6 separate regions of the Homo sapiens genome follow, and all the other regions are reported to be linked to region 2. The links are microRNA targets in miRTarBase. Many come from high-throughput screens and were not tested one by one. Region 2 holds a microRNA gene; each other region holds the end of a gene's coding sequence.

Region 1 (4,091 bases), not on the chromosome of region 2:
CGTTTTGTAATGTGTATTGATAATTATGGGATATTAAAACTAAATCTGGTTTGGTAGAAATCAGAGGTATGACAGGTATAAATTTGTTTCCAGCAAATTACTCTGAATTAGATTCATTGTCATTTCCTAAAAACAGTTTGAGTGGCTTATTGATGTTTTTTCTTTAAAAACAAAATTTTCTCTTACAGCAATTCTGGGGTCAGAAGCCATGGAGTCAGCATTATCACCAAGGATATTATTGAATACCCAAATAAAACGAACTGATACATATTTCTCCAAAACCTTCACAAGAAGTCGACTGTTTTCTTTAGTAGGCTAACTTTTTAAACATTCCACAAGAGGAAGTGCCTGCGGGTTCCTTTTTTAGAAGCTTTGTGGGTTGATTTTTTTTCTTTTCTTTTTTGTACATTTTTAATTGCAGTTTAAAAGTGAATCGTAAGAGAACCTCAGCATTGTGCACGATAAGAGAATGTGTCAGTATTTCAGGGTTCTACATTTTATCTGTAAAATGTGACTTTTTTTTTTTTTTATCACAACAGAAGTAAAATGTTGCTTTGTACCTGGTGTCTTTTATTAAGAATTTACTCCCCCCATTTCTCACAGAGAATAACAGTCGGGAGTCATTGTCACAATATAATAGAAATGTTAGCAACCAGATTCATGTAAGGACTAAGTGGTCCTCATGAATTGCATTAAGACTCTGTACTGCTCATATTACACTCCATCCTCTCTGTAGTTTGCTGGGTAGTGGAGGGGGTAAGCTAAATCATAGTTTCTGACAATAACTGGGAAGGTTTTTTCTTAAAATAACAATGGAATTGGTATAATTGGGATTGAAAACTAAAACTTGGAACTAAGATAGAGAAGATGGAGTGTATGTAGAAGGGCTGTTAAAAATGTAAAACTTGGTTGCATTATTTGTGGAGGCTCAAACTTGTGAAGGTTAATACCATAATTTTTCCATTTGTTCTGCATTTTGATTCTGAAAAGAAAGCTGGCTTTGCCCATTTCTTATTAAAAAAACTTGTTGTAAATCCAGTTGTCTAATGGGATCTATATGAAGTTAGCCATGTCTGTATGCCCTTCTCCCACAAAATACTGTATAACTAGTGTGCTTGTAGTAGTTAACTCCACCATCTTTGTAAGCTAATGAAATTGTGAGTCACCCATTTATATCTTAATTTTTAATCATGTCAGTTCTTGAATGGGTATCTCCTTAGCCTGCTGATTTCTTTTTCTTTCTAAAGAAAGTGGGTGGAGAAATTAATTTAGACGTTTGTTTGCAATAAAAAGAATTCATTTTACTCTTGTTTTGGGATTCTCGCCATCAAGGTTCAAAATCCCTTTATATAACTCCCAAGAGGAGAAATTTATTAAGTGTGTGCTTTCTGGACAGCTTATTCTTTACTCTGCATAGAACATTTAGGTTTTAAAAACTTAAATGTATACTGACAATTGATACATAATTATGAAGTAAAGTTGAATTCTTCCCTTCCCCTCCCCCCCAGACAACTTTTAACATATTTAATGAGGGGAAAAGGTACTGGCTGGGAGAAGTTAACACTGAGTTTATCATCTTTACAGAATGCTAATGCTGTCCTCAACTGATTATTTTATATACATATATATGATACATGAAACTCTGGGATCAGATGCTTTTAGAAGCCATCATGCAAGCCAGTCATTGATGTCACTGCTACACAACACTGCTAACTTGACTGTAGCTATGTAATAACATTAGATCCCCTAATTGTAATTATATTGGGTTTGCACAGAACACTTTAATCTTCCCCTCACCAATGTGAAGTGAGGAATCAGGAGTCAAACTGTAGAACTAAAATTTGACTTCAGTCTAGCGTTTCCTTGGTGTTTTTAGGTTGCTTTGGTAAGTTTAGGTTTGCTATATTTCTGATTGCTTAGAATTTTGTTTTAGCCCTTTAAAATCAGATCATAAATATGAATTCATACTTCTAAGGAATTTTCTTGCTATAAGCTGGAGTTTAGGTGATGTATAGGTTCAGTTGAGACATTTTTGGAACAGGCAAATCCTTAGTTAACATAAGATATTTAACAGTTGAAGATAGTGTCATGGATTTTTATCTTTTTTAGCAAGTAATGCTAAGAACCACTGGCCTGAGCTACTACTCTTCAGTATACATTATTAGGATTGCATAGACTTACTAGAGGAACAGTTTCAGGTTTTGATGCTAATCAGTGTTGTGTCCTAAAGTTGTCCTTTGTGCCTTTAAAAAGTTTTGGATATATCTTCTAGTTTAAAATTGCTTATTAAGGAATTCATTTTATAATTGCAGTGGGAAAGTAATGGTCAAGTAACACTAGGTAGACTATCATGCCTGTTTAGCCCAGAGAATTTGGGGGGAGAGAGAATAGATAAAAATGGCACCCAGAAAAATGTTAAAATCTTTAGTCAAGACTAGAATTAATACAATTGTCTACACTTGTATGGCAGAAATAACCTTATAAAGTGTTTAAGGAATTCAGAGAAGGGAATGTACCAAATAAGCAACAGGGAGAAAATTAGGTAAGAAGTAAGATACGAACGAGAAACCTGATTTATTGCTCATCCTTCCCTTGCCTCCCTAATGGCAAGCAAAACTCTGAACATCTGAAAAGGATGTAGTTCTGGACAAATCCTGACTACCCAGAGGAAACTCACTGTGAGATTGCTGTTGATTTGAAGGGTGCTTTCACTAAGGTTATATTTTAAAGTAGAATAACACATGCTGAGTGTAAACTGGCTTTGGATTGGTCAGCTGCAGTAGTACAAAAACAGCATAGAATTTGAGAAAACTAAAACTGCTATGAGATAGCTATGAGAAAACTAAAACTGCTATGAGATAGAAATGATGTAAAATTATGTGGAAAGTTTTCCCTCATATACTCACATACAGCCTTTGAAGGGCTCTGGCTCTGACCGGTTGATGGCCTTGAGCGAGATGAAATCATGAAATTGAGTCAAATCAATTTGACATTGAAATGACAAGAGGAAACTCTTAAATACATAAAAACAAGCTCTCATTTGCCTAGGATAGATACTGTCTTAAAAATAAAGACTGAACCTAGATGTTCTGAGCACTAGCAACAAGGTATTTTAACAAGTTTAAAGGAATTCTCTGAAAAAGTTATAAAATTATTCTAGGAAACATAACCATAATAGTGTTTTAAGGGACTTTCACCTGGGGATTTTATATTCATGAACAGAGTGTATTCTGTATTTAAAATGTCTCATTTGTGGGAATTGGATGACATGTTTTTTGATAAATTTATTCACAATATAAATTGACTTTTTATTCTAGGACCATGTGAATAATGGGTTCCATTGCACAAATACAAATATTTTAATAGCTTCTTAGGCAGTGGTGTAGACATCTTGGATATAAATAATTGTAGATCTTGTATATTTGATTTTTAAAAAACTAGAATAAACAGAGAGGCATAAACATATCTTAGAGTCCAAGTGGTAGTGTTTAGCATTGGATATAATAAATGGATGTTTTACAAAGTGTTTCCATAATTCTCTTCCTATACATAAATGTCTTGTTTTCAAAAGTGGATGGAACTTGGCTGGGTGTGGTGGCTCACGCCTGTAATCCTAGCACTTTGGGAGGCCAAGGCGGGAGGATCACTTGAGCTCAGGAGTTTGAGACCATCCTGGGCAACATAGTGAGACCTGGTCTCTTGAAAAAAAAAAAGTGGATGGAACTTGTAGCAGAGAATTTTATCTACTTCTCAACCTGCTTCAGAATACCCATTTGAGATGTTCCCCTGGAAAGATGAACACAATACTGCATCTGAAGCCATTTCTTCCCACCTAACATTCTTAAAATGATTAGAGTCTAAACTTTGTCATTCATTCCTAATTCTGGAGCTCTGAGGTTGAGGTGTTCAGAGTTTGGTGAATAATTGGGTTTAAGTTTTAACATTTTAGTAATAATAAAAGCAAACACATACATGTTAAGGCCTGACAATAGGTTGCAATACCCATGCATTGGGACTCATACCCAGCATAAATGGTGAGGGACTGAACATTAGTGCTTTGAGCAAGAATTGGTTAACTACCTGAGATCTCT
Region 2 (4,104 bases):
GAGATGGGGACTTGCTATGTTGCCCAGGCTGGTCTCAAGCTCCTGGGCTGAAGCGATCTTCCTGTCTTGACCTCCTAAAGTTCTGAGATTACAGGCATGAGCCACTGCACCCAGCCCACTGCACTTTCTTTATCATTCATCTGGTGATGGACATCTGGGTTGCTTTCAGATATTGGCCCTGTGAATAATGCTGAAATGAACATGAGATTGCACATCTCGCTTTGAGGTTCTGATTTCACTTCAACTTAAGGCATTTTTTATCCAAACTATGGTCCTCCAAGCCTCAGTTTCACGATACTTACTTAATGAGTTCCTTTAAATTGACTCACTTTTTATTTAAATTTGTTTCCAAATGAAATTCCATGCAACTGCCACAATTTTTCTATATGCACCACTTGACAAACAGAATGGACCATTAAATGAAAACTTTAATATAAAACGTTTCCCAGGTTCCTCCTGAGGTTACCTTGTGGCCATCATGGCAGGCCCCCCACACTGGGTTCCCGGGCTCAGGGACACCACCAGGAATACCAGCATCCCAGTGGCACTTTCCCTTTCCTCATCTCTAGTGCCAAATCACACTCCAGCAGCCAGGACACCAGCCCCAAGCCCCCGGCACTCCACTACCACCCATGTGCTGTATCTGTCAGCACGACAATTGTCACCTTGAAAGCCGACATCCTTGACAATTCCTCAACCTGACAGAAATTTCCCACTTAAGTTTAGAGAGTGAAAACGTCCCACAATGACAGCCACCTTTCCCCACATTTACCGACAAGCCTATAGCACTTCCATCAGTCAACAACAATCCTCGATGCTTTGGCAGGTGAAGCCAGAGGACACCAACGATCAGAAAATAAACCCAGGCCCGACAGCCCATGCTCCGCTCAGTTGACCTCACAGGTGACTCCAGGATGGAGGGCTCCAAGATGCAGCCAAGCAGAGGCGTTCTGCCCCCAGAGAACCCAGAGAGGCTTCTGGTGACAGGACTAGAATCCTCCTCCCTCAGCCACTGGGGAGAGCAGAGTGCCCCGTTGTCCCTGGGGAGCCCAGGAGGCAGCCCCTCCCTCACTCTCGGCCGCTGTGCCTGCAAGCTGGGTGCCTGTGTGGGTGCTGGGGGCCAGGGAATGGGAAGAAGTCACGGGACACATATTTGATTCCAAGTTTGTGGAGCTAACCCCACAGGGTGCTTTGGGGTCCTATTAAAATCAGAGGAGGCACATTTTAGAGTAGAATATAACATGCATGGGAATTTTTAAGAAAAAATAAGACTGTAAACACCTATTCCTGAGAACACCAATGGAAGGGATGTGGGTGGGGAGGTGGGGCAGCTGGCAAAGAACTGGAAATGCACAGCTCACCCAGTCACAAAGGCGCAAGAGTCCGCCCAGGGGGCTGGACCATGGGAAGCATTCCCTTGCTGCTCTCCAGGAGCTCAGGGACCCCACCCGGTAGGTGACTCAGGGTGGGGCCCAGGGGACAGGCCAGGGGCTGCAGCAGAAGTTCTAGGCACATACCTGAGACCCCCCCCCCAGGAGACTCAAGGACCCCAGAAGAGGACTTGGGCAGGGGGCTGGAAATGATGGCCACACACCAGAGGAGGTGTCACAGAAGTTTGTTTGAGACTTCCGTGAGTGTAGAAAGGGCCCTGCCACCTGCAGAGCTTGCAGGAGGTAGGAGAAGCAGGCAGCCGACAGCAGACTGGCACATCTGGGGGGTCCCATGGGTGAAAGGAGGCGAGGACCTGGCTTTGCTGAGCTGGACACAACCGTCACCCTGACCTCCTTCTCCAACCAGTACCCCCTCCTGTTGATACTGTCAGGAGACTTGTTCCCCGGGGTCTAGAAAATGACTATTTTGCTTTCTCCTGGGAGATGCTGGCTTTGGGTCCTAACTCTTCTGTCAAGACACACTGTTATCCCCAGGCGTCATCACTCTTCCTGGGATCTGCACCCTAAATTCACATCCGATTTCACGATAGAGAAAAGTGCAGTGGGTTGGAGCTTCAGCCTACACCTGTAAAGAATTGGTCAGCCTGGGGACTGGTGATCTCTGCAGCTGTGGGCTCAGCTCTGGGCTGGGCCTGGTCACTGGGAAAGGCAGGCATGTGCCTAGGTGCTGCAGAGGTCTCGAGCCCCTCCCATGAGCTTGGCGCGGTGCGGAGGGCAGCCTGTGAGTGAGGCTCTGAGCCCCACTCATCACTGAGCAAGTTGGAGGAAGAGGGACCCAGGCAGAGACGAGAGGCTGCCTCCAGAAAGCCAGCCAGTGGCAACTGCAAAAGCCGACAGAGCACTGGTTGCCAGGAATGCGCACGGCCCACAGAGGGGAAGAGTGAGGAAGGGTCACTGAAACAGCCTGAACAAATAAAAATGGAGCCAGAAACTGCACAGAAGGGAGACAAAAGAGAGGAATCCGCAGAAACCTGGGCTCCGGGGGGTGTGGTTGCATCTTTCCACCTGGATGAAGTCGACTAAAATGAGCACCAAGGATGGGTCCCAGCATAGCATTGATCCCTTCAATACAACTGATGTAAATGGCTCACACCAGCCAGATACCGCCTGCCCAACAGGAGTCTGGTTGTCAGGATGCTTTAGGGTTGTCCAGTTCACAGCAGCCCCGGATGGAAGGTGGGGGTTATGAAAGTAAGGGCTTCTCAGCCCATGAAGTTGTTTACAGCAGTGATAGTACCAAGTGGAAAACTGATACCCCTGGGGCCAGACTGTGTAGGTGTTGATAGTCTAAGATGGGGCACTGATTAGTTTGGGGACACAGAGGAGATGTTACCTTTAACATCAATCATATTGCATAGACTGGCTATTAACCACGTGTAGAGCACATAGGCCTTTTGCAGAAGGGAAAAAATTCTATTTCCCATAAATCTAAAAAGCATGAAATTGGCCGGGCATGGTGGCTCACGCCTGTAATCCCAGCACTTTGGGAGGCTGAGGCAGGTGGATCATGAGGTCAGGAGATCAAGACCATCCTGGTTAACATGGTGAAACCCCGTCTCTACTAAAAATACAAAAAAATTAGCCAGGCATGGTGGTGGGCGCCTGTAGTCCCAGCTACTCGGGAGGCTGAGACAGGAGAATGGTGTGAACCTGGGAGGCAGAGCCTGCAGTGAGCCAAGATCGCACCACTGCACTCCAGCCTAGGGGACAGAGCAAGACTCCGTCTCTAAAAAAAAAAAGGCAAGAAATTTCTGAAGTCTGGGAAAAATAGAAAAAGAACATCAGTATGTAAAGGCATTATAAGTAGATTTATGATTCACAAAGAACCGGCAAAAGAGAAGGTCCATGGCTGGATGCAGCTGATCTCAGGAAGAGAGAGAACTCCAAACACGTGCGTCAACCACATGCAACCACGTGCATCAATCGACCCATATGCACCAACCATGTGCATCAATGCAGCCTTCAGAAAAGAAGTGACAGTGATGGTGCAGGAGGGGACGGTGGACAGAGGGAAAAGGGGCCTCCCAGGACTAAGTGGAAAGCCTTCCGCAGACCTGTCCTCTTCACCCCAGCCTTGTCATGTGAGTTATGTAGGCACAGTTTCAACGTCATGAGTCACTACCTCTGATCAATAAACCCTCCTGTTTTTTTAAAGCAGCTATATTTGAGACAAACAGCCTCCATCTGCCTAGGAACACAAACCTGAACAAACTAAGCCCCAGTGGCGCTGCCTTTTGGATGTAGACCCCTGTCCACACGACTCCAGATGTCAAACTGCCAAGCAATGGACACATTGGTCTTTGGCAAAGAGGTGATTGAAAAGCTCAAAAACTGCAAGTCTTAAACTCCATTGTTCAATGGGCTGCTGACCCATAGCAGGTGCCCTTCTGCACTGTGAGGCTCAACCACAGGATCTGATATACGTCACCTCATTTGATATGCTGGGGACAACAACTTTAAATCCAGGAAAACTCTTGTTACTGTACACAAGTCAAAGCTTAGTTTGTCAAACCGAGACAGCAGATACACTCCCAATTCCATAAGGAACACATTTTTAAATTAATTTTTAAAACTCAGATTTCTAGCATTGGAAGTTTTCCCTCTGCTATAGTCCACAACACAAATTCAGCCACAGAAGGCACAAGGGGGATGC
Region 3 (4,104 bases), not on the chromosome of region 2:
TTCATGCTTGTTTTTCAAATTCAGTACAATTCTCCCAGTGATTTCTAGGAAAGAATAAAGAGGAGAGGAGAGGTAGACATCAGAATGTAGAGAGGCAATACTGTGTAAAAATGAAAAACAAAAAAAAAAACTTTATTTCTATTTTCCCAGGCTGCACAAATCTGGCTTTGATGAAGAAACTCAGAAGATCCTGATGTCTGTGGAAGAAAAAATTCCCCATCTGACCATTTCACATGGACCTTGGATTGACGAGGAATACAAGATCAGGGGTGTGCTCCTCTGATGGGGAACACCCTGAAGTAGTCGTCTCACAAAGGCTTTCCTTGGCCACAGTGGGACCTTCACCTGGCACCTCTATCCTGTAATTGCACATCATGGCAGCAGGGCTGTGATTTCAGAGGTACTCCCTAAGTGTTCTAGCAATATGATTATGGAGTGTGATTCAGTGTACATGCTGATTGTCTTTGCCTCGGTCCTATATCCCCTTGTCTTTAGAAATCCCATCCTGCCTTGTGATATTTAGAAGCACAAGTACGTTAAACAAGTGCTAAACGCTCTGGAAAGCATGGCTTTATTTTCTTAATGGATGTCTTGGTGTGTAGGAGCATGCATTTGTAGGCACCACAATCCGGATACTTCTGACACAGAAGTGATGCTAGAATGTGTCTATAGATTGTATTGCTAGCATCCAGACTTTCTAGTTTGTCCAGATTTCGATTTGATCAATTTTCTTGTCCAATAAAAAAGCATTTCCAAATCTCTACTTATCCTTTTATATATGACACCCCAATAGATTTTTCTAAAAATTCAGTATTATTCAAATATATCTACACTGTTTATATTTCAAAACACAATATTAAACACTTCATTGTCATAATTAAACATTCCCTAGTTCCCTACGGTAAATTGCTGATGCCTTATTGGCCTGGTCTAAAATTTTTATTACAAAACATAAAAGCAAGATGATGCAGAAATTGGATTATATAATCAGTTATCATTAGATTGAAATATAATCTCAGATTCTCCTGAGAATGAGAAATTGTGGACCTACTCTTGGATCTCTTGGCACACTCCTGGATTCTTTGGATATTTGGGAGGCTGAATTTTCTATAATCTTCAATGTAGAGTGCTCGCACTTACTTGCTTAATTTTACTTCCAGGTTTTCCATATGTTTAAGCAATTATGAACTTTTTTGCCCAATTTTCTATTTGCTTTTGGCCTTTTCCCACAACTTTAAAGAATGCTGGCATAGGCCAGGAGTGGTGGCTCACGCCTGTAATTCCAGCACTTTGGGAGGTCCACGCGGGCGGATCACCAGGTCAGGACTTTAAGACCTGTAAACACGAGTTTACACTCAAGACTGGACAAGGGTTTCCATAGGACAAAAGACACCATTGTGTGGGGGATTCCAGTGGAAAGAAGAACCAAGGAGTTTGCCACGGCCATGTGGGTGAGAATCTTGTGTGTGGGCCTCATTTGATGCTCAGTCAAGATGGGAAAGATATTATGGAAGAACAGAATGGCATTGGCCAGAGTCCCCACCCCAGTCTGCAAAGGAAAGATGGTTTTTATGGCCACTTCCCCTATGGTTCTTAGGACATTGTTCTGAAAAGACATGGGGAGGGTTTCCAGGTGGTCTGAACTGAAGAGCTGGCTATGTCTGTGATGAGATCAGCACTCTTAGCTTTTCATCTTGGAAAGTTATTTTGGTCTTTCCTTTACCCGAAATAGAGACACTGTCATATTCCACAGAAGGGGCTCAACATGGAGAACATACCCCTGACACCAGTTTCACATTTGACTGGTTTTTGGGTATTTATTTTCATTTGTTATTTGTTCTTTCTTTTGTTTTAGAGTCAGGGTCTGCTTTTTGGCTCAGTCTGGAGGGCAGTGGTGCCATCATAGCTCACTGCAGCCTTGAACTCCTGGGTTCAAGTGATGCTCCTGCCTCAGCCTCCTGTGTAGCTGGGACCACAGGTGCACACTACCGTTCCTTTTTTTTTTTTTTTGAGAGACAGCCTCACTCTGTTGCTCGCCCAGGCTGGAGTGCAGTGGCACAATCTCGGCTCACTGCAGCCTCCGTCTCCTGGGTTCAAGTGATTCTCCTGTCTCAGCCACCTGAGTAGCTGGGATTTCAGGCATGCGCCACCATGCCCTGCTAGTTTTTGTTTTGGTATTTTTAGTAGAGATGGGGTTTTGCCATGTTGGTCAGGCTGGTCTCAAACTCCTGACCTGAGGTAATCCGCCTGCCTCGGCCTCCCAAAGTGCTGGGATTACAGGCCTGAGCCACCGCGCTCAGCCCATTTAAATATTTTTTAGTATAGACGGGGTCTCACTATGTTTCCCAGGCTGGTCTGGTACTCCTGGCTTCAAGTGATCCTCCCACTTCAGCCTCTCAAACTGCTGGGATTACAGGCACAAGCCATCGCACCTGGCCCATTTACTTTTTTTTTTTAATCTCTCTTTACTATTGTTTTTTAAATCTCTCTTTACTATTGTTTTTTAAATCTCTCCCTTCCCTTCCCCTCTTTTCTTTCTTTCCTTTTCCTTCCCCTTCCCTCCTTTTTCTCTCTTTCCTGCAATGCTGCAATCTTGGCTCACTGCAGCCTCTGCCTCTGGGTTCAAGCGATTCTCCCGCCTTAGCCTACTGAGGAGCTGAGATTACAGGCATCTGCCATCATGCCCGGCTAATTTTTGTATTTTTAGTAGAGACAGGGTTTTGCCATGTCGGCCAGGCTGGTCTCGAACTCCCAACCTCAGGTGATCCACCCGCCTCAGCCTCCCAAAGTGCTAGGATTTCAGACATGAGCCACCACGCCCGGCCCTCTTTCACTTTTCTAAAACAGTACGCCACTGCATTCCAGCCTGGGTGACAGAGCGAAACACGGTCTTTTAAAAAAAAAAAAAAAAGAAGAAGAAAAAGAGAAGAAAGGAAGAAAAGAGGAGGAAAAAGGAGAAGAAAGAGGAGGAAAGGAAGAAAGAAAAATAAAGGAAGAAAGGAGGAGAAAAAGGAGGAAGAGGAAGAAGAAAAGAGAGGAGGAGGAGGAAGAAGAAATCAAAGTTCTCCAGTCTCATAAACCTGCACATGCAGAGAATCTGGAAAAACTAAAGCTGGGTTGTTCCCCAACCAATGGACATTCTATGGTCCCTTTTCTTCCAGATAATAAGGCCTTCTTTGTAACTGCTATGCAGACCTCTGGCTTCCCATCCAGCATACCTGAACTAAGACTTATTTTGTCTTACACTTTATACTCACTGAAAATCAAGAATCCCATGGTGAGCTATGATCACACACTGCAATGCAGCTTTAGTGATAGAGCAAGACCTTGTCTCTAAATATATATATATATCCCACAACACTCTAAATATATATATATATATATATCCCACAACAACAAATATTCCAGCCACAATGTCAGTATGACTGTTGAAGAACCTGACCTTATGATTGACATGTCATTTTCTCGATACTTTCAAGATTTTCTCTACCTTTGGCCTTTATTAACTTGACTCTGATAATGTTCGGGGATACTTTTCTTTTTTCTAAGAAAGGGTCTTGCTCTGTTGTCCATGCTGGAGTGCAATGGTGCGATCTCGGCTCACTGCAACCTCCACCTCCCGGGCTCAAACGATTCTCCCATCTCAGCATCCCGAGTAGCTGGGACTACAGGTGCATGCCACTATGCATGACTAATTTTTGTATTTTTAGTAGAGATGGTGATTTTGTCATGTTGGCCAGGCTGGTCTCGAACTCCTGACCTCAAGTCATCCATTCGCCCCGGCCTCCCAAACTGCTGGAATTACAGGCTCACGCCACTTCATGAAATGTGTTGTAGTGGCTCTGGATTCTGTATCGTTCTGAGAGGTTTTTTTCATTGGTTTGTTTTCGTTTTTGTGTGTTTCCGTAGGCAAAAAAGTTGCCTGGACAGGTTTACAAAACATATCTCCCCATCTCCCTGCAGTCAGCAGCTATCGGTATCTATGCTAAGTTCCTTCAAAGACTCCTAAGAGGTCTCCATGGACCTCTGAAGTTTAATAGTCAATGATTGGGTCAGAGCTTACTCAGAAACCTCAGGCCAGTGAGGCTTCCAACCTCTGCAGCC
Region 4 (4,104 bases), not on the chromosome of region 2:
CAAGGCAGATACTTTCCCCATGGCAAGCAATCAAAAAAGCCAGGACACAGAGGGGCGGAACAGCTGCTGAGGACTGTACTGATGCACACCCCGGTAGGCAGATTCCCAAGCCCTTGTTCTGGAGTTTGTGTGCTGGACGGCCTGTAACTAGTACAAACTGACCTTTGTGTGTCTCTTCTCTGTCCTCCCTGCATCCATATTGTAGGACAGGAGAAAGAAAGGGAGGAAGTCTGTTGCATTATTAAATCTTCCACAGCAGATAGTTATGGAGAATCAACAGTTTGGGGTTTACACATGAGGGGTTCACCCAGCTGGGGGTTTACAGCCATGTCTGATGTGCTCCTGCTCCAGGGAAAGCCTTTATTCCACTCACCCATCAGCCGTAGATGTTTGACAAGCAGCAGCAGCAGCATTCCCCACATCAGTCCTGTTCTCTGCAGCACATTGAAGGGAAGTGACCATTTCAAGTGAGGGTGTCACTTCCTCTGCTTTTTTATTCCAGGTACAACAGACTAGCAAGAGAGTGGACACAAAAATATGCTATGTAAGTGCCTTGGAGGTTTTACATGAGACACTGTCCAAGAGAAGCTGGCAGAGAGGTCTTCCCTTAAAACTTTGGGCTGTTGGCTGAGCCATTCAAAGAGCATCATCTGTTCTTCAAACAAATGTTGGTCACCCACTCTCTCCAGCTGCAGCATGTTGGTGCCATTTTCAGCAATTACGGCTTTGACAGTGCCACCTCTTTGATGCCAAATCAGCAACCATTGTTGTTATGATCTGCAGTCTTCCTGGTGACACTGGAATCTCTCTCTCTGCCGCCTCAGTTTGTCTGCTGGTCTCTTGGGGGGCCAGGCCCTGCACGTCTCTCCTACCCGGCCTCAAATGGTGCTGCTGCCCATGATGGTACCACACCAGGGCCTCAGCCTGGCCCCTCACCACATACCCTTTGCCTTTTAGAACTCAGTGCCATCCTGGGTGCCCAGGGCAGAGCAGGCTTTGTTCGCACCTCATCTGCTGCAGAACCACATCCTGAGGAGTCTCAGCTTATCCTGGAGGGAATTGGGAACAGTGTCACTGGGAAGTGAAGGCCTAGCCCTGTGGCTTCCACCAGTCTCCTCCTGCAGTGCCACGTGGTGGCATTTCTCGCCTCACACCAAGAAGCAGCAAGTGGAAAATTTCAGGATACAAAGCACATAACACCCCATAAGAGATGATTATGTTTTTAGAAGCAAGAGCAAAATTATGAAACCTCTAGAGATTTGGGTCATGTTACTCCATTTGATGAAGATTCTCACTACCGCCCGCTCCTCCCATAGGAGCCTACACTAAGTCCAAGTGTGAGCCATTCACAGACTAGAACACAAGGAGGGAGAGAGACTCTTAAACGTAAATAAAAATGCAATTCACTCACAACTCTAAATGATAATTGACATTTCAGCCTCTTTCTTTTAGGCAAAACAGAAGATACACACTATTAACAGTTATTTGAAGCCTTAAATTACAATAGCCTGTTAGGTGATCGGCTTTCTGCCTTGGCTTTCTGATGCAGCACATTTTAAGATTTGCCTTTAAAGCTTTGAGCCTTGAGATTAGGTTAGTTAGGAAGAGGACAACAAAGGGAAGAGATTATTCTAATAAAACTTCCACAGAGGGAAGAAAATTGAGGAGCTTCAGATCTCTAAAGCCAAATTCAACCTGATCTTTCTAGGTTGGTTATAAAGCTGGTCCACTTCCAGGAAGTGATGTGTAGGTGAATAGGAACAAAAGGTGAAGAAGCAGTAAAACTGTGACCAAGTGGCCAGATGGGGCTTTTGCCGGCTGATTGAAAGGAAGTCTACAGACCTAACATAAGCAGTCAGCCAAAGGTGGCTGTGGGAGGTTGATTTCTTCCAGAAACTTCCAAGTTGTGGCTACAAATTTATTGCCAGATATTTTCCCACTGAGAATACTGAGGTTATTCACATAATCACTTCCTTAACAAAGGAAGAAGCACTTTTAACTTGGGCTGCATTCCCTTTGTGAGGGTCCACATTTAGGATCCTCCTGCTACCATAAGGCCCCTTTTGGGGTTCTTTGGGTGTGGCTGCATCTCACCATGTTGAGGATTGCCTTTTTTTTTTTTTTTTTTTTTTTTTTTTAACACAGAGCCTTGCTCTGTCTCCCAGGCTGGAGTGCAGTGGTGCGATCTTGGCTCACTGCAACCTCTGCCTCCCAGGTTCAAGCAATTCTCCTGCCTCAGCCTCCCAAGTAGCCGGAATTACAGGCATGTGCCACCATGCTGGGCTAATTTTTGTATTTTTAGTGGAGACGGTGTTTCACCATGTTGGCCAGGCTGTTCTTGAACTCCTGGCCTCAAGTGACCCGCCCACATTGGCCTCCCAAAGTGCTGGGATTACAGGCGTGAGCCCCCGTGCCCAGCAAGGATTGCTGTTTTAATTCTTGTATCTTCGTTGCTTCTTTGGTCTTTGCTTAAACAAAACAATAAAGCTTAATAGTTGGGGAGAATGCTGTTACCAGTGTCCTCTAGGAAGGCTGTTAGCATATGGCTCTACTGAGCAGCAGTGCCATCTGGTGCCTGAGATCATGTGCTTCAGGCAGTTGTCACACTGCATCTACAGCCAAGCATCACAGAAACACTTCACTCATGTGGTCAGGGAAGGTGGGACTGATTCACATGTTAGAGACAGGTCAGATGGGAAAATTAAGGCCCAACTTGGTGTTGGGGAATAACCATACTCTGGTCTTTCAAGTGTAGTAGCTGATGATTCCCAAGAAACTGATGAATTTTCTGAGTCCAGACAAAATTTCCCCAAGCCTGCTCTCTCTGTTGGATATACATAATAGAGAAAGTCAAATCAGCCCTTTGGGGTTTGTGGTAAAAATTCACTCACCCATTGAAGCCTAAGGTGGCTTTGTACCTTCCAGATCTCTCAGCAAATCCCCTGGGCAGAAATGTCACCTGCTTGCCATGTCTTTGAGGGGTTCAGGTCAGCCTGGAGAACAGGCTCCTTAGGTCAAAAACCTTGTTTTAAGAGCCACTGTGGTACAGTCAATGTAACCCACTTGTGCAGAAGCCATGCTTCCAAGGAAGGTCTCAGGTTGACAACTAGACATCAAATCTGAGAAGCCAACTGTGGAGTAATGTGTTTTTTTCTCTGTGGACAAGAGTGATCAGAAAGGTGCTTGATCTTGAACAATTGATCCATGATGAAAAAATGACCATTAGCTCTCCCCCAGAAGCGTCTGTGTTTGCTGAATGGAGCTGAGATTTTGATCCGCTATCAGACTCCAGAAAGATCCAGGAGTTCCAAGAACATGGCAAAGAGTCAAAATCTTAGGACAAGGAATTAAAATGCCAGAATGCAAATGTCCAACAGGCCTGGTAGCTCACAGCTATCAACACCCTAGAATTCCACACTGCCTCACTGCAGTTGCTCAAGGATGGGTATGTTTCTGTCTCTGAAATTCGGGAAAAAGCCTTAAGTGCCAGAGAAGGTGCTTCCAAGACTGTCTGCAGAATTCCTTTCCTAGGGTCTGTCTCTGGTACCCAAAAGGGCAGAGAAGGAACCCTAAGATTAGCATAGAGCCACTCATCTCTCCTCCCCTCCCCACCCCTTCTTCCCCTGCTTCCATTCCCCATGGCTCTCTCCTCTGACTGTGAAACACTTCCTCTCCAGCAGTGTTGGGAAAGTTCTGGACCTCTACTGGATCTAGCCATAAATGGTGGTCTTCAGAAAAATGGAGATTGTGGCTGCCAGCACCCACAAGACAGCAGCCTCATGCCATGCAGGCAGCAAGCCATCCTGAACAGCGTTCCTCCCAGAGTCTGTTTCCTCACCTGCTGTTCACTGGTGAGAGGAAAAGGGACTTGTTCTCCCTTGACCAGTTTTCTAGTTTTCCTGTTCCCACCCTGGTCTTTGCCTGATGACAGAGAAACTTTCTAAAAAAAAACAAAAACAAAAGCTATAAAAAATCTGCAAAACACCCTATCAGAAGTCAATGATTTCCTTAAAAATACATCTACTTCCTTCCTGTCCTTCTTATCTTCTCCCTTGCCCCAGACAGGTGTGCTTGCAGGCATCCAGCTGCCTGCATCAGAGCTCC
Region 5 (4,104 bases), not on the chromosome of region 2:
GTCAGGAGATCGAAACCATCCTGGCTAAAGCGGTGAAACCCCGTCTCTACTAAAAGTACAAAAAATTAGCCGGGCATGGTGGCAGGTGCCTGAAGTCCCAGTTACTCAGGAGGCTGAGGCAGGAGAATGGTGTGAACCTGTGAGGTGGTGCGGCTTGCAGTGAGCTGAGATCGCGCCACTGCACTCCAGCCTGGGCTACAGAGCGAGACTCCGTCTCAAAAAAAAAAAAATTTACTGTATTCCATTGTCAATATATCTTTGACACTTTCACAAGTCAACATATGTGTCATGTATGATATTCCAAAACAGGCATTGCTACCTTAAAATGTGGTGGTTATAAGCACCGTGGAGAGAACTTGACTCTTTGAGTCCAATTTTTTTTTTTTTTTTGAGACAGAGTCTCGCTCTGTTGCCCAGGCTGGAGTGCAGTGGCGTGATCTTGGTTCACTGCAACCTTTGCATCCTGGGCTAAGTGATTCTTGTGCCTCAGACTCCCCAGTAGCTGGGATTACAGGTGTGTGCCACCACACCCAGCTAATTTTTGTATTTTTAATAGAGAGGGGGATTTCACCATGTTGGCCAGCCTGGTCTCGAACTCCTGACCTCAAGTGACCTGCCCACCTTGGCCTCCCAAAGTGCTGAGATTACAGGCGTGAGGCACCATGCCTGGCCTGAGTTCAAATTACTACTCAGCTATTAGTAGCTGAGGTGGGGCTGAGGGTGGGCTCTCTGGATTACACCTCATTTTCCCTGGAGATAATAGCATCTATCTGATGGGATTGGGAAAAAGATCGGGTGAGAGCCAGGTGCAGTGACTCTCACCTGTAATCCCAGTGCTTTGGGAGGTTGAGTGGGAGGTCGCTTGAGCCCAGGAGTTTGAGACCAGCCTAGGCAACATAGCAAGACCCACATCTGTGTGTGTGTGTGTGTGTGTGTGTGTGTGTGTGTATAATTTAGCTGAGTGTGGTGGTGCACGCCTGTAGTTCCCAGATACTCAAGAGGATGAGGTGGGGCCAGATGTGGTGGCTCACACCTGTAACCTCAGTACTTTGGGAGGCCGAGGTGGGCAGATCACTTGAGGTCAGGAGTTTGAGACCAGCCTGGCTAACATGGTGAAACCCCATCTCTACTAAAAATACAAAATTACATCCTGGCTAACACGGTGAAACCCTGTCTCTACTAAAAATACAAAAAATTAGCCGGTTGTAGTGGCAGGCACCTGTAGTCCCGGCTACTCGGGAGGCTGAGGCAGGAGAATGGCGTGAACCCAGGAGGTGGAGCTTGCGGTGAGCCGAGATCGTGCCACTGTACTCCAGCCTTAGCCGGGCGTGGTGGTGCACGCCTGTAATCCCAGCTACTCGGGAGGCTGAGGCGGGAAAACCACTCGAACCTGGGAGGTGGAGGTTGCGGTGAGCTGAGATAGTACCACTGCACCCCAGCCTGGGCAACAGAGTACAACTCTGTCTCAAAAAAGAGCGAAAAAAAAAAAAAAAAAGGCTGGCATAGTGGCTCACGCCTGTAATCCAGCACTTTGGGAGGCCGAGGCGGGCAGATCACTTGAGGTCAGGAGTTCAAAGCCAGCCTGGCCAATATGGCAAAACCCCGTCTCTAGTAAAATTCAAAAATTAGCCGGGCATGGTGGGGCACGCACCAGTAATCCCTGTGGCTGTTGGTTATAGGGAGTGGATTCCTATGTAACATTCATTGAACTGTCCCTTTAAGATTCATATACTTGGGTGCATATGAATTCAACTTGAATATGGATTAACAAAGAGAAAGTAACATGTGGTTGGTGATGGGGGAAATGAACCCTCTCAGGACTTAGGGTGGGAGTGAAAAGACTGACAATGATTTGGGCAACAGTCCAGCAGTATTTAGTAAGACTGAGAATGTATCTTCTCCATGTCCCTGGGAGAAGTCCCTGAAGTTCCCCTTCTCTGTAGCTACCGTAGAGAAACACTGTAGATTGTCACTTGGATTTTTTTCCGAGATGGTATCTTGCTCTGTTGCCCAGGCTGGAGTGCAGTAGTGCGATCTTGGCTCACTGCAGTCTCAAACTCCTGGGCTCAAGTGACCCTCCCACCTTACCATGCCTGGCTAACTTAAAAAAAAAAAATTTGTGTAGAGATGGGGTCTTGCTATGTTGCCCAGGCCAGTCTCAAACTCCTGGCCTCAAGTGATCCTCCCACCTCGGCCTCCCAAAGTGCTGGGATTACAGGCGTGAGCCACTGTGCCAGGCCTGCCAGTGTCTTGATCTTGGACTTCCCCGCCTCCGGAACTGTGAGAAATCAATTTCTGTTGCTCATAAATTACCCAGCCTGGCCAGGCACTTTGGGAGGACGTGGTGAGAGGAACGCTTGAGCTCAGGAGTTCAAGATCAGCCTGGGCAACATAGCAAGACCCCGTCTCTACAAAATAAATAAATGAATAAATAAATTACCCTGCCTAAGATATTTCTGTTCTAGCAGCAGGGACAGATGAAGACACACACACGTACACACATGGCCTGTATGCAGTTGTGGGTGAAGTTTATTAAGGCAATACTGAATACCAGAGCATTTCAACAAGGCTTACCACACAGGCCCCAGTACCTTTCTACTCTACAATGAGGCTCAGAAGCTCAGTGTACCACCCCATCCCCAGGAGGCCCACTTAGACCAGAAATCCCAAGTCCATTAGCTACAGGCTGATATTCAGGGACATCGGTGTAAACAAAGAAGTGGGATATGAACTATATCCCTGATTTTTTTTTCTTTTTTTTTTTTTTTGAGACTAAGTCTCACTCTTGTCCCCCAGGCTGGAGTGCAATGGCGCGATCTTGGCTCACTGCAACCTCCGCCTCTCAGGTTCAAGAGATTCTCTTGCCTCAGCCTCCTAACTGGGATAACAGACACCTGCTACCATGCCCGGCTCATTTTTTTTTGTATTTTTAGTAGAGACGGGGTTTCACCATGTTGGCCTGGCTGGTCTCGAACACCTGACCTCAGGTGTTCCGCCCGCCTCAGCCTCCCAAAGTGCTGGGATTACAGGTGTGAGCCACCGCACCCGGCCTATATTCCTGATATTTAACAAGGAAAAAAAATTCTGCAGGGGAGAACTTTCCTGAAAGATATTTTTTCTGGACATCTCTCTCTACTGACTGATAGGGTGAGGCTCAGAACAGGCTTCTTCCAAGCTCAGAGAGGCTGAGAGATGGGTCAACTGGGTGATGCCCGTTTTGAGAGCCTTAGCTTCCCAAGTGGACAGCACAGAAGAGCTGGGAGGAGTGGCTAGAAAATAAGTTTGAAATGAGCCCCGGGTTGAGGACTCCAGAGCACAGCTGCATTATAGAGACGGGGCCCGCTGAGTCCTCTCCTCTCCCCCTACTTCTTCTCCTCCGGGGCTTTCTCAGTGATTCCAGGGGCAAAGGGTCCCACGAGCCACGTGACAGGTGTGTTCTGGGCCACATATTCCACCATGTGGTCCAGGGCCTCGCGGGCGCTGGCGACACGCTCACGGCTCTGGGCCAGAATGCTGCTGGACAGGTCCTGGAAGGAGTGGATGCTGGAAAACGTGGCCTGGAGGTCCTCCACCTGGCGGCGGGCCTGCTGCACCTGGTCCTTCACATTGGTGGGGAGGCCCTGAATGCTGGACCCCAGGGAGGTACAGGTGGCCTGCAGTTGCTGGGCAATGTCCCGGAACATGGTGAGCGCCCGGGACTCGACCTGCTGAGAAGGGAGATGGGGACACCAATCAGGACCATTTGTTTCAGGAAAGGCGATCGGAGCTGAAGCCAGGGAAAGAGGGGAAGAGGGGTTCTACCACTGACCTTGGGGCAAACGCTTTCCATAGGCGAAACTTTTTTTTTTTTTTTTGAGACGGAGTCTCGCCCTGTCGCCCAGGCTGGAGTGCAGTGGCACAATCTCAACTCACTGCAAGCTCCGCCTCTCAGGTTCGCGCCATTCTCCTGCCTCAGCCTCCCGAGTAGCTGGGACTACAGGCGCCCACCACCACGCCAGGCTAATTTTTTGTATTTTTAGTAGAGACGGGGTTTCACCGTGTTAGCCAGGATGGTCTTGATCTCCTGACCTCGTGATCCGCCTGCCTTGGCCTCCCAAAATGCTG
Region 6 (4,000 bases), not on the chromosome of region 2:
GCTGTACTGCCTCCCCTTATTCCTCAACATGAAGTTCCCACCTCGGATTGGGGATGGGTGGGAGGGGGTTTCAAGAGGAGGAGGGTGGGATGGGCAAGGAATATACACAGGTGAAGCCAGAGAAGGGTTAGGTTGGGGGTGCGGTGGGAACTTGCTGTTTTGATCTGGTTTCCTGGTGTGACACTCTGGGTTAAAGGCTTGAAGGCCCCTGTTAGGAGTCTAGGGGTGAGATTCTCTTCTCTCTGATCCCAGAGGACGTTAACTTCTACTGCAGGTGAGAAACAAAATAGGAGGATGGTGGGGACTGTCCTGGGAGGAGGGGGTGGTCCATGGCTTGTGGTGTGGGCTGGCTATAGGGGAGGCCACTGCTAGGGGACTGGCATCCAGGCCCCCTTGAAGCGTCTCAATAAGTCCGCGCTCTCCTTTTTGGTGTCTTGCAGGAGAGGCAGCTTCCCCCCTTGGGTCCAACAAACCCGCGTGTGACGCTGGCCCCACCGTGGAATGGCCTGGCCCCCCCAGCCCCACCACCCCCACCCCGGCTGCAGATTACGGAGAACGGCGAGTTCCGAAACACCGCAGACCACTAGCCCACCCAGCATCAGAGACCTTCTCTTCCTTTCCTGTGCACCCCACCCTGTAACAGCACCAACCACCAGGATTGGACATCACCGAGGAACAGCGGGATTGCCTCCCCGAATGCCTCCCTGGGAGGCACACTGATTGCCCACCCCCACCACTGCACCATTTCCAGGAGGGAGAGTGGGGACCCTCAGCCGCCCCCTTTTCCTTCCCATTGGGGTGCTGCCCTCTCTTTGACCCCCAGGGACCCTTGCCCCAGGACACCGCCTACCCCGTACAGACCCCTTCACTCCGGGGTGCTATCCCCATCCTCTGCCTCATCGTTCCCCTGAGCACTGGGGGACAGACCCTCACCCCCACCCTGGGGGTGTGGCACCTCCAAACTTTCAACTTCAGGGTGATTTTTTTAGCAGTAACCAGAGCTGACAATCTAACTCCCCTCCACCGCCCCATTTTGGCCTCCCCTGCCCCCCTTGTTATGGGGAGGGGACCCCGGGTGAGGGGGCCCTATTACCCCTTGATTTCTCAGGAGCGTCTGGGGGGGCTCAGCACGCACAAACTCCTTCTCCTTCTACCACTCTTAAATTTACTCCCTCCCCACCCAGAACCCAGATGGGGTGGAGGGGGCCACCGGGGCAGGGAGGGGGCGGCAAGGGGGGAATGGGAGTTGTCTCCCCTTCTCCCCACACCTGATCTGCTCTCGGCTGGTCCCAGAGCGGGGTGAGGGGGCTTATGCCCCCCCCTCCCCCAGTGTGTTGGGTGGGGTGGAATTGAGGTTAGGGTGAGGGGTCAGGGTTTAGGAGGGTGTGTATGTTGGGAGGACAGGCTAGTTGATCTGTCCTACTCTGACACACAGTCCCCTCTGCCCCTTCCTTCTCTCTTCTTGGTCTCTACTCCCAGGGGGAGGGGGGAACTTACTCTAGGAAAAGCCATGTCTCTCTCCCCCAGGGTGGGGGGACCTGTGTTGGAGGAGGGGTGTTGGGGGGCCCCCTTCCATGACTCTGTCCCCTGGGGGAGGTAGGACAGGGCTGGGCTTCCCTCTCATCCTCCCCCTCCCAATCTCCTTCCACCTCCCTCCCTCCCGCCAGCTCCACGATTTTTCGGTGTTTCTCTGTACATAGTTTTCTGGCGGGATAGGGGAGGTAGGATGGATGGGGTTTGGGGTGGGTAGGCCATGGGAGGGGAGAAGCCCCTCCTTGGCACCCCCTCTTCCCTGACTGCTGTCCCCTACCCAGCCTTGCCCCCTTCATCCTTTTGCGTTTGGTATTGAGACTCTCCTAGACTCTACTCCTCTTTCTTTTGTATGGACAGTTCCCCTTCAGTCCCATCCCCCTACACATACACCCAGCCGGGGCCAAATTTATACTTATATAAAAGTTGTAAATATGTGAAATTTTATCCCTGTGCCCTTTCCCCACCTCAGGCCCTACCCCTGGACCCTCCCCAACCTTCCTTCTCTCTTCTTTGGCTGTTGTAATTATCTGGGGTTTGTACTGTACATATCCGGGGTGTGTGTGTGTGGGCTGGGGGCAACCCTTCTGTACAGAGCTTCCTGGCCCCCTCCCCCCCCGCCCCTCTGCTTCCCTCCCCACCCACCACCTCAAGGGTAGGGAGTTGCTCTTCCTACCTGTTTTATTTTGTTTTCTCGTTCTCCCTCCCCACCCCACTCCCAGCCTTATCTATCCCCCCTCACTGTCCCCTTTTCTCCACTCCCAGCCCCATTTCCTTTTTTTCTGGAGTGTGTGGTGAAACAGAAAAAAACATGTTTAATAAACGGAGATTGTTCTTTTATCGCTGTGCCGACTTTCTTAGGCAGGGCTCTCCAGACCTGTACGGTGGTAAGATCTGCTTTCTGAAAGGAAGCTGACAGCCTGAGAGGAAAACCGTATATCCCCACCTGATGCCACACTCTCCTCATAGAATGTCACTCTCCCCTCCCAATGAGATTTTTTATATTTTAGAGCAGGAGTTTTGCACCGGCCAAACTTCTCCAATCTAACTCTCCCCTCACCACTGTGTCACTTAGTCCGAGGCCAGGAACAGCGGCGTTATCTGATAAAAGAGTTCATGTATATATCCACATTTATCTCTTTTAAAAATTACCTAGAAATAAGGTTTCTTTAATTGCTGGTTAAAATGCTCCCGTGCAGAAAACAGGAAAGAACCTGCCTGGTTCCTTAGCAAATCTGAGTTCCAGTCCCAGGTCCACTACTATTAGCTGAGTGACGCTTCCAGCCCGTTTCCCCCGCCTGGAAACTGAGGACGGCAACCCCCACCCTCGCAGGGCCGGTGGGAAGACACAAAGTGATGTGGGCAAGTGCCAGGCCCACATGGTAAGTACCCAACTAATCTCGCCCCTCTCAGGACCTACCGGGGGCGGGTGCTACACTTAATCACCGGGAAACGCAGCTTTCCGGGGCGGCTGACGGCCCACCCCCTCCGACCGGGCTGTTCTCTCCCGGGCCCTGCCTCTCGGTCCTCTGCAGCGGGGAGGACTTCAGCAGCTCCCCGGGACGCCCGTTGCGAGGACACCCTGGGCCTGTGCCCTCCTACTAGCACCGCCCTCCTCGTCTGCAGTAGCCAATCAACACGAGGCTTGTAGGCTGCCGTTCCTCGATTGGCTACGGCTCTAGCTCCGCCCGCCGCACTTGGCGACGGTGTCCGGCGGGGAGGCGGCGGCTTCCGGTCTGGGACGGAGCTGTAGCGGCACTGTAACTGCGAGGGCAGCGCCGCGTGTGTAACGGCGGGGGCGTGTCGGCGGGAAGGACAATCGGGCCGGGACTCGCGGTGTCCGGGTGACCGCGGCTTCCCGGGAGCAGACCTCTGTGGGCACTGTGAGGCGGAACGGAGCGGCGGGGCAGGAGCTGTTCTGGGCAGGTGAAGGCAGGCTGGTGGCTGAAGGACCTCCTTCTTATCTTCCACAGGGGCTGGAAGTTAAAACCCCTGTTGGTGTTTAGTGGTGGTGGTTGTTGTTGTTGTTTGTTTTTGCTTTCTTGGTGTGCGGGACTGATTTGCAGAAACCGCCACTGACTTAAAAGTTTCCAGTTATTGCTCGTGGGGAGGGGGTTGTTTGAGAAGATGTGGCTCCCTTTATCCAGGGCTTCTGTGACCTCCATCTTTTTCCTCTGCAGCCTTCATCCCGCGTGGAGTCTACCCCCAAGCCCTTCTCCTCTTCCCAATTCTTGTCACCTTCGAGGAGGCCATGGAAACCCCAACACCTTTGCCGCCTGTACCCGCCTCCCCGACCTGCAACCCAGCCCCACGGACAATCCAGATCGAGTTCCCACAGCATAGCTCGTCTCTGCTGGAATCTCTGAACCGCCACAGGCTAGAGGGAAAGTTCTGTGATGTGTCCCTCCTGGTGCAGGGCCGGGAACTTAGGGCTCATAAAGCAGTGTTAGCTGCTGCCTCTCCTTACTTC

The links. The annotated mature microRNA hsa-miR-4265 reads CUGUGGGCUCAGCUCUGGG and lies in region 2 at 2,059-2,077, shown strand. An mRNA with a match to its seed (bases 2 to 7 or 8) in the 3' UTR can be bound and repressed. Matches are read on the target gene's strand: a 7mer-m8 pairs with bases 2 to 8, a 7mer-A1 pairs with bases 2 to 7 and ends in A, and an 8mer does both.
Region 1: miRTarBase lists HNRNPU as a target of hsa-miR-4265. Seed matches in the 3' UTR shown: 7mer-A1 at 1,088-1,094.
Region 3: miRTarBase lists NLRP9 as a target of hsa-miR-4265. The part of its 3' UTR that is shown has no 7-base or 8-base seed match.
Region 4: miRTarBase lists UBE2D4 as a target of hsa-miR-4265. Seed matches in the 3' UTR shown: 7mer-m8 at 2,364-2,370 and 7mer-A1 at 3,761-3,767.
Region 5: the mRNA of PLIN3 is a reported target of hsa-miR-4265. Seed matches in the 3' UTR shown: 7mer-A1 at 2,517-2,523.
Region 6: the mRNA of SYNGAP1 is a reported target of hsa-miR-4265. The part of its 3' UTR that is shown has no 7-base or 8-base seed match.

The regions. Positions count from the first base shown.
Region 1 is chr1:244,850,601-244,854,691 of GRCh38, reverse strand. HNRNPU (heterogeneous nuclear ribonucleoprotein U) reads left to right here. Exons shown (of 14, transcript NM_031844.3): 14 at 189-4,091. The coding sequence ends at 242. SNORA100 (small nucleolar RNA, H/ACA box 100) reads left to right here and starts at 475; the gene lies at 475-605.
Region 2 is chr2:109,139,473-109,143,576 of GRCh38, reverse strand. It overlaps MIR4265 (microRNA 4265), which reads left to right and starts at 1,989; the gene lies at 1,989-2,087. The region is part of intron 1 of SH3RF3 (SH3 domain containing ring finger 3); the gene reads right to left. It also overlaps a transcript of RANBP2 not described here.
Region 3 is chr19:55,705,091-55,709,194 of GRCh38, reverse strand. It overlaps NLRP9 (NLR family pyrin domain containing 9), which reads left to right. Exons shown (of 9, transcript NM_176820.4): 9 at 151-757. The coding sequence ends at 283. EPN1 (epsin 1) reads right to left here. Exons shown (of 11, transcript NM_001130072.2): 11 at 1-4,104. It also overlaps the pseudogene VN1R106P. Among named protein-coding and RNA genes, the nearest start is that of NLRP9, 31 kb to the left of the region's middle.
Region 4 is chr7:43,952,148-43,956,251 of GRCh38, forward strand. It overlaps UBE2D4 (ubiquitin conjugating enzyme E2 D4), which reads left to right. Exons shown (of 7, transcript NM_015983.4): 7 at 503-3,989. The coding sequence ends at 548. It also overlaps the pseudogene POLR2J4. Among named protein-coding and RNA genes, the nearest start is that of UBE2D4, 28 kb to the left of the region's middle. RefSeq lists silencers at 2,492-2,561, 2,602-2,651.
Region 5 is chr19:4,835,830-4,839,933 of GRCh38, forward strand. It overlaps PLIN3 (perilipin 3), which reads right to left. Exons shown (of 8, transcript NM_005817.5): 8 at 2,512-3,707. The coding sequence ends at 3,363. Among named protein-coding and RNA genes, the nearest start is that of TICAM1, 6.2 kb to the left of the region's middle.
Region 6 is chr6:33,451,320-33,455,319 of GRCh38, forward strand. It overlaps SYNGAP1 (synaptic Ras GTPase activating protein 1), which reads left to right. Exons shown (of 19, transcript NM_006772.3): 19 at 441-2,370. The coding sequence ends at 587. It overlaps ZBTB9 (zinc finger and BTB domain containing 9), which reads left to right and starts at 3,257. Exons shown (of 2, transcript NM_152735.4): 1 at 3,257-3,456; 2 at 3,711-4,000. The coding sequence starts at 3,782. It overlaps SYNGAP1-AS1 (SYNGAP1 antisense RNA 1), which reads right to left and starts at 3,086. Exons shown (of 3, transcript NR_174954.1): 1 at 2,951-3,086.